Linked DNA regions of Homo sapiens. The protein of the gene in region 2 interacts with the protein of the main gene of each other region in a pairwise test. Each region holds a gene or a part of one and is shown on either strand. Other genes may lie near its edges. The genes, in order: DBF4B and MIER2.

Region 1 (3,813 bases), on a different chromosome or scaffold from region 2:
TATCTTGTGTACTCTGATCCTGTGGGTCAAAATCAATGTTTAAGCCAAGGTCAAACAAAGCTGATATTAAAAAGTAAATGGAGGCCGGGCGTGGTGGCTCACGTCTGTAATTTCAACATTTTGGTAGGCCGAGGCAGGTGGATTGCTTGAGCTCACAAGTTTGAGACCAGCCTGGGCAGCATAGTAAGACCCTATCTTTAAAAAAAAAAAAAAAAAATTAGCCAGGCATGGTGGCGCATGCCCGTAGTCCTAGCTACTTGGGAGGCTGAGGTGGGAGGATGGTTTGAGCCCAGGAGGTGGAGGTTGCAGTGAACAGAGATGGCGCCACTGCACTCCAGCCTGGGCGACAGAGCCAGACCTTGTCTCACAAAAAAAGTAAAGTAAAATAAACAAATAAAATAAAAAGAAAAAAGAGTAAATGGATCTTCTGGTATATACCTGAAAAATAAGTAAATAAATGTAAGATAAATGGAATAAAATAAAAAAATCAGCTTTAGCTGGAGGGCCAGGATGATGGTGGATCCATGACCACCTGTGCCTCTGGGCCTTAAGAAGTTCCAGATTCTCCTCTAGGCCACACCTTGGGGGCAAACACAATCCAAAGAAGCCTCTCACATTCCCTTGCGTATCAGCACATTACACCCAAAACTCACTTCACTGCTAGATATCTACAAAACTAATTTTTTTTTCTTTTTTTTGAGACAGAGTCTCACTCTGTTGCCCAGGCTGGAGTGCAGTGGTGTGATCTCAGCTCACTGCAACTTGTCTCCAGGGTTCAAGCGATTCTCCTGCCTCACCCTCCCAAGTAGCTGGGATTACAGGCATGCGCCACCACACATGGCTAATTTTGTATTTTAGTAGAGACAGGGTTTCACCATGTTGGCCAACTGGTCTCAAACTCCCGACCTCAAGCGATTCACCTGCCTCGGTCTCCCAAATTACTGGGATTACAGGCGTGAGCCACTGTGCCCGGCCTACAAAACTGATTAAGTTAAAGTAAAAATGCTGTGTATCTGCATAGAAGGGGGGAATTTTTGACATATTTGCTTCTATGTGCATAGAGTCCTAGAAACTGTTCACACTTTCAGGGAGGAAGGTCAGTGGTTGAGGAGAAGCTGGAGCAGGGCGAGAATTTTTGTTGTATACCCTTTTGAATTTTGAATAACACAAATTTAACAGCAGCAATGTCCCCAACACTCCTAGAGGAGAGGGTGTGGAGAGGGCGTCAGTGTCTGAATGCTCCATCCACTATTTTTTTATGTTTTTTTGAGACAGAATTTTGCTGTCGCCTAGGCTGGAGTGCAGTGGTGCGATCATGACTCATTGCAACATGTCTCCTGGGTTCAAGATTCTCCTGCCTCAGCCTCCTGAGTAGCTGGGATTACAGGCATGTGCCACCACGCCCGGCTAATTTTTGTATTTTTAGCACAGTCGGGGTTTCACCACACTGGCCAGGCTGGTCTTGAACTCCTGACCTCAAGTGATCTGCTGGCCTTGGCCTCCCAAAGTGCTGGAATTACAGGTGTGAGCCACCATGCCCAGCTGCTCCATCCACTTTGGATGTGGCTTGCTAGTTCTGTTAGCTAATTAGCACTGTTAACTAATAGCTATTACTGTTCGTCCTGTGCCTGGATGCCAGGCTGTGGGTAGATCTGTAGATTTAATCCTTCCTCAGATTGAGGCTTGGGTGAAGATACTGTGGCTTTAAACCAGGTTGGGCTCTCTTGATGTAGTACACACAGTTCTAACGCCAGCAAAGAATGGAAAACAAACAAGGATTTAGAAGATGGCAGCTATTTCAATCACTCCTTCTCACCCCTGCAGTATGCAGACTCGTTCCCAGTCTAGAGGCTGTACAGGGAAAGTTCCAGAATAGCAGCCTGGTCAGTGCCATGGGCATTTATGAACTTTATCTGGTCCAGAACTACTGTAGGGAGCCCATGGCCCAGGCAGTCCAGGCCATAGGGATGTCTCAGCAGGGTGTGTGCCATGGGAGGACTGCAAGTGCCACAGAGAAGAGAGAAGAAAGGGTGTTGCAAAGCTATGGGCACTAGGACTGAGGTAAATAAGAGGCTGCATTCCTCTTCCATCTTTCAGAATGGCCAGGAAGAGATGGTTTGGGTGGGCCATGGATTTACCTAAGTTGTCACTGATTTCATTGAAAACCATCCATTTGTCCTTCAGTTCAGCAGGATGACCTACCTCTGGCTTCTTTGGCTGTTGTTTTTTCACACATAAAGACGCAAGAGACAGCTGTTGCACGTGCATCATCATTTCTGTGGAGAAGACAGAGGGTTTGTGCCAAAGGCTTCCAGTCTTCACTTACCTAGCACAGCCCCTTCCTGGGCTGCAGGACTAAACTCGCTGGGCCAGCCCACTGAATCACTCCAGCCTTGCCTGCCACCTTCTGGCTACACATCCCCTCTGCATCTCCTGACAGCGGAGGTTAAGGACTGGGTCCTCTATCCCTGGAACAGCACCTGAGCGGGTGTCATGCTCTTTTGCAGCATTGAATACAACTCATCTTTGAACAGAAGGTGCCTCATGGCTTGCTAAGGACTTTAAGGCACCACTGAAGAGCTGTGGCTGTGAGGGAGGCCATGCTGTGTGAACTACTCAGCTGTACCCTCAGGTGAAAGACCAGCAAGGGCTAAACATGCTAGCACTCCTCTAACAGAGAAAGGCAGGGAAGGAAATCAAGTCAGAAATGGCTGATTTTTCAGTGAGATGAAGCCCTCCACATCCCAGACCAGGAACTTCCCCTGTACAGCCTCTAGACTCCCCTGGAAGATCTTGGTACCAAGGGGTGGGGCAGCGCCCCAGTCAGCACCTATGGGCTGTCCCATCTGGACCAATCCTCTAAAATGGATCACAGAAAACTCCAGACTCAAGAATGGAGCTGGGTATGAAACCACTCACTGCCACCTGGTTCAAGACAACTATTCTAGTGTAAACAGGCTGCAAACAGGTTGTTTACAGTGTGAAAAAAGAAGGAGCACAAAATTTACAGCTGAGTAAAACTGAGAGTGGTGGGCCACACTACACACTCTGGTGAGACCATGGACAATTTGCCTAATCCCTTTGAGGCTCAATTTCCTCATCTGTATAATGGGGACAGGACTGTAGTGAGGATTAAATGAGGTAATTCGTAGCACAGAGTCAATACCTGTTAGGTGGCCATGAATTTTTTTTTTTTTTTTTGAGACGGAGTCTCGCTCTGTCGCCCAGGCTGGAGTGCAGTGGCGCAATCTCGGCTCACTGCAAGCTCCGCCTCCCAGGTTCACGCCATTCTCCTGCCTCAGCCTCCCGAGTAGCTGGGACTACAGGCGCCCGCCACCACGCCCGGCTGATTTTTTGTATTTTTAGTAGAAAAGGGGTTTCACCGTGTTAGCCAGGATGGTCTCGATATCCTGACCTCGTGATCTGCCTGCCTCGGCCTCCCAAAGTGCTGGGATTACAAGCGTGAGCCACCGCACCTGGCCGAATTTTTTTTTTTTTTTGAGACGGAGTCTCGCTCTGTCACCCAGGCTGGAGTGCAGTAGCATGATCTTGGCTGACTGCAACCTCTGCCTCCTGGGTTCAAGTGATTCTCCTGCCTCAGCCTCCTGAGTAGCTGGGATTACAGGCACGCACCACCAGGCTCGGCTAATGCTTCTATTTTTAGTAGAGACGGGGTTTCACCACGTTGGTCAGGCTGGTCTCGAACTCTTGACCTTGTGATCCACCCGCCTTGGCCTCCCAAAGTGCTGGGATTACAGGTGTGAGCCACCTCGCCTGGCCAGTGGTCATGAATATTAAGATCATTTCTGCATT
Region 2 (3,813 bases):
CGTCTGTGTCATTCGAGTTGTCTGCGTGGTTGTGTGTGTCTTGTGTATTGCATTGTGATGACACCTGTGTCATTCGAGTTGTCTGCGTGGTTGTGTGTGTCTTGTGTATTGCATTGTGATGACGTCTGTGTCATTCGAGTCGTCTGCGTGGTTGTGTGTGTCCTGTGTATTGCATTGTGATGACGCCTGTGTCATTCGAGTCGTCTGTGTGGTTGTGTCTTTATTGCATTGTGATGACGCCTATGTCCTTTGAGTCGTCTGCGTGGTTGTGTGTGTCTTGTGTATTGCATTGTGATGACGCCTGTGTCCTTCGAGTCGTCTGCGTGGTTGTGTGTGTCCTGTGTGTTGCATGGTGATGACGTCTGTGTCATTCGAGTCGTCTGTGTGGTTGTGTGTGTCTTTATTGCATTGTGATGACGCCTATGTCCTTCGAGTCGTCTGTGTGGTTGTGTGTGTCTTGTGTATTGCATTGTGATGACGCCTGTGTCATTCGAGTTGTCTGTGTGGTTTTGTGTGTCTTGTGTATTGCATTGTGATGACGTCTGTGTCATTCGAGTTGTCTGTGGTTGTGTGTGTCCTGTGTATTGCATTGTGATGACGTCTGTGTCGTTTGAGTTGTCTGTGTGGTTGCGTGTGTCTTGTGTATTGCATTGTGGTCCTTGGTTTGGATGCTGTGGTTTTTGAGTCTTGTGTGTTCCATTGTGGTCCTTGGTTTGGATGCCATGGTTGTGTGTGTCTTGTGTATTGCATGGTGATGATGTCTGTCATTTGAGTCATCTGCATGGTTGTGTGTGTATTGCATTGTGATGACGTCTGTGTCATTTGAGTCGTCTGTGTGGTTGTATCCTGTGTATTGCATTGTGATGATGCCTGTGTCATTCGAGTCGTCTGCATGGTTGTGTGTGTGTGTCCTGTGTATTGCATTGTGATGATGTCTGTTCTTTGAGTCATCTGTGTGGTTGTGTGTGTCTTTACTGCATTGTGATGATGTCTGTGTCATTCGAGTCGTCTGCGTGGTTGTATGTGTCTTGTGTATTGCGTTGTGGTCCTTGGTTTGGATGCCGTGGTTGTGTGTGTCTTGTGTATTGCATTATGATGACGACTGTATCATTCGAGTTGTCTGCGTGGTTGTGTGTGTCTTGTATATTGCATTGTGATGACGTCTGTGTCATTTGAGTCATCTGTGTGGTTGTGTCCTGTGTATTGCATTGTGATGACGCCTGTGTCATTCGAGTCGTCTGCGTGGTTGTGTGTGTCGTGTGTATTGCATTGTGATGACGTCTGTCATTTGAGTTGTCTGTGTGGTTGTGTGTGTCTTGTGTATTGCGTTGTGGTCCTTGGTTTGGATGCCATGGTTTTTGAGTCTCTTGTGTGTTCCATTGTGGTCCTTGGTTTGGATGCCGTGGTTGTGTGTGTCTTGTGTGTTGCATCGTGGTCCTTGGTTTGGATGCCACATTTACCCACCCTTTCTGCCATGGGCTGCGGTCATGGTTGGTTCAGCTGTGGGCTGTGAATGCCCTCGTGTGCGTCGTTAGTGGACATAGGCACTCGGCACTTGATGGACAGCGGGGAGTCGTGTGGGAGGTGTGTGCTTAGGGTGACGCATACTGCTTGAGTTTCTCACTAATGATTTGTGGGAGTTGCTCCACATTCTCGGTGTTTGCCACTGAGGGTGAATTTGCCTGAATTTTAGCCCGTCTGGTGGATATGGACTCCTGTCCCATTGTGGTTTTAATTGGCATTTCCCTGGTGAGCACCTTTCGCAGGTGTACTGGCCATTTGGATATTCTCTCTTTGCGTGCTCCAAGCTTTCTCCCATTTTGTTGTCTTTCCCTTTCTGATTTGTAGTCATTCACATTTTGTGGAAACAAGTCTTTCTGGGCTTTGTGCACTGCTGCTGTTTTCTCCAGTTTGTGGTTTGCCCATTGACTCTCTTAGTGATGTCTTTAATTTTAATAAAGTCCAACTTATCAATCATTATTTGAATAATAATGTGTGTGTGTGTTCTACTTAAGGAGTGTTTGCTTACCTCAGGCTCTTGGAGATATTCTTCCACGTTTCTTTCTAGAAGATTTATTGTTTTTCCTTTCACATTTAAGGCTGTGATCCAACTTAGTTTACATTTTGGTGTATGGTGGCTGGGCGTGGTGGCTCACACCTGTAATCCCAGCACTTTGGGAGGCCGAGGTGGGAGGATAACTTGAGGTCGGGAGATTGAGACCATCCTGGCTAACACGGTGAAACCCCGTCTCTACTAAAAATACAAAAATGAGCCAGGTGTGGTGGCGGGCACCTGTAGTCCCAGCTACTTGGGAGGCTGAGGCAGGAGAATGGCGTGAACCCGGGAGGCGGAGCTTGCAGTGAGCCGAGATCGCGCCACTGCACTCCAGCCTGGGTGACAGAGCGAGACTCTGTCTCAAAAATAAAAAATAAAAATAAAAATAAAAATAAAAACAACAAAAGTCCATTGTCTCCCCCACTGAGCTGCAGTGACGCCTTTGTGGTAAATCAGGTGCCTGTAAGGTGTGTCTTGTCTCACCCGGAGTCATCGCCACTGTCTCAGTTATTACAGGTTACAAGGAAGTCTGAGGTGGTGCAAGTCTTCTAACTTTGTAAGTTTTCATTGCATATCTATGTAAGTTTTAAGATTAAAACTTATTTTTTTCAGCAACTGACAAGTTTTAATCTTTTTTTTTTGAGATGGAGTCTTGCTCTGTTGCCCAGGCTGGAGTGCAGTGGCATAATCTCAGCTCACCACAACCTCCGCCTCCTGGATTCAAGCAGTTCTCCCACTCAGCCTCCCAAGTAACTGGGAGTACAGGCACCCGCCACCACGCCTGGCTCATTTTTGTATTTTTAGCGGAGATGGGGTTTCACCATGTTGGCCAAGCTGATCTCGAACTCCCAACCTCAGGTGATCCGCCTGCCTTGGCCTCCCAAAGTGCCGGGATTACAGGTGTGAGCCCCTGCGCCCGGCCCATAAATTGATTTTCAAACGTTAAGTTAACGGTGCACGGTGGAATAAACGTGCTTCCTGGCCATGAAGTGTTCTCTCTTGTGTGTATGTATCTCATGCACTCAGTCCTCATTATTTGTGGGTTCTGTGCTGGTGAATTGCCTACTTGGTAAAATTTATTTGAAACCGCAAATCAAAACTCGCAACACCTTTACGGTCAGGCGCCAGCAGATGTGTGTAGAGTGTCAGTGAAGGCGAGTTACCTGACGTACAGTTCCAGCTGAGGTGGGACAAGCTGCTGCTCTGTCTTGGCTCTCAGATCTTTTACTGTGAGCACGTGCCTTTCCTGCCGTGTACTGAATGCCGTTTTTCACATCCTTGTGCCTTGTGTCGGCTACTTGACGGATTAAAGTGGCCCCTAAATGTAGTGCCGACGTTCTGTCTGGTGTTCTTAGGTGGAAGAAGGCTATGATGTCCCTTTCAGAGAAAATTCGAGAAGCTCCACTCAGGCGCAAGCTCTGGGGCTGCTGGCCGTGAGTTCAGTGTTAGTGAATCCACAAGGCAGATCCAGTGAGACAGTGGCTCCCAACCTTTTTTGGCACCAGGGACTGGTTTCGTGGAAGACAATTTTTCCACGGATGTTGGAGTAGGGGGCGTGGTTTCAGGAGGAAACCGTTCCACCTCAGATCATCAGGCATTAGATTCTCATAAGGAGTGTGCTGCCTGCCTCCCTGGTGTGTGCAGTTCACAGTGGGATTTGCGCTCCTATGAGAATCTAATGCCACCACTGATCTGACAGGAGGCGGAGTCAGGCAGTGATGCTGGCTCTCCTGCCGCTCACCTCCTGCTGTGCGGCC

The links.
Region 1: the proteins of MIER2 (region 2) and DBF4B interact in a two-hybrid assay, tested with the Homo sapiens proteins (one large-scale study listed by IntAct).

The regions. Positions count from the first base shown.
Region 1 is NC_000017.11:44,732,553-44,736,365, reverse strand, and holds part of DBF4B (protein DBF4 homolog B), read right to left. Parts: intron 2,277-3,813; coding exon 2,203-2,276; exon of another isoform or gene 2,185-2,202; intron 1-2,184. UniProt on the Homo sapiens protein: Regulatory subunit for CDC7 which activates its kinase activity thereby playing a central role in DNA replication and cell proliferation. Required for progression of S and M phases.
Region 2 is NC_000019.10:320,528-324,340, reverse strand, and holds part of MIER2 (mesoderm induction early response protein 2), read left to right. Parts: intron 1-3,813. UniProt on the Homo sapiens protein: Transcriptional repressor.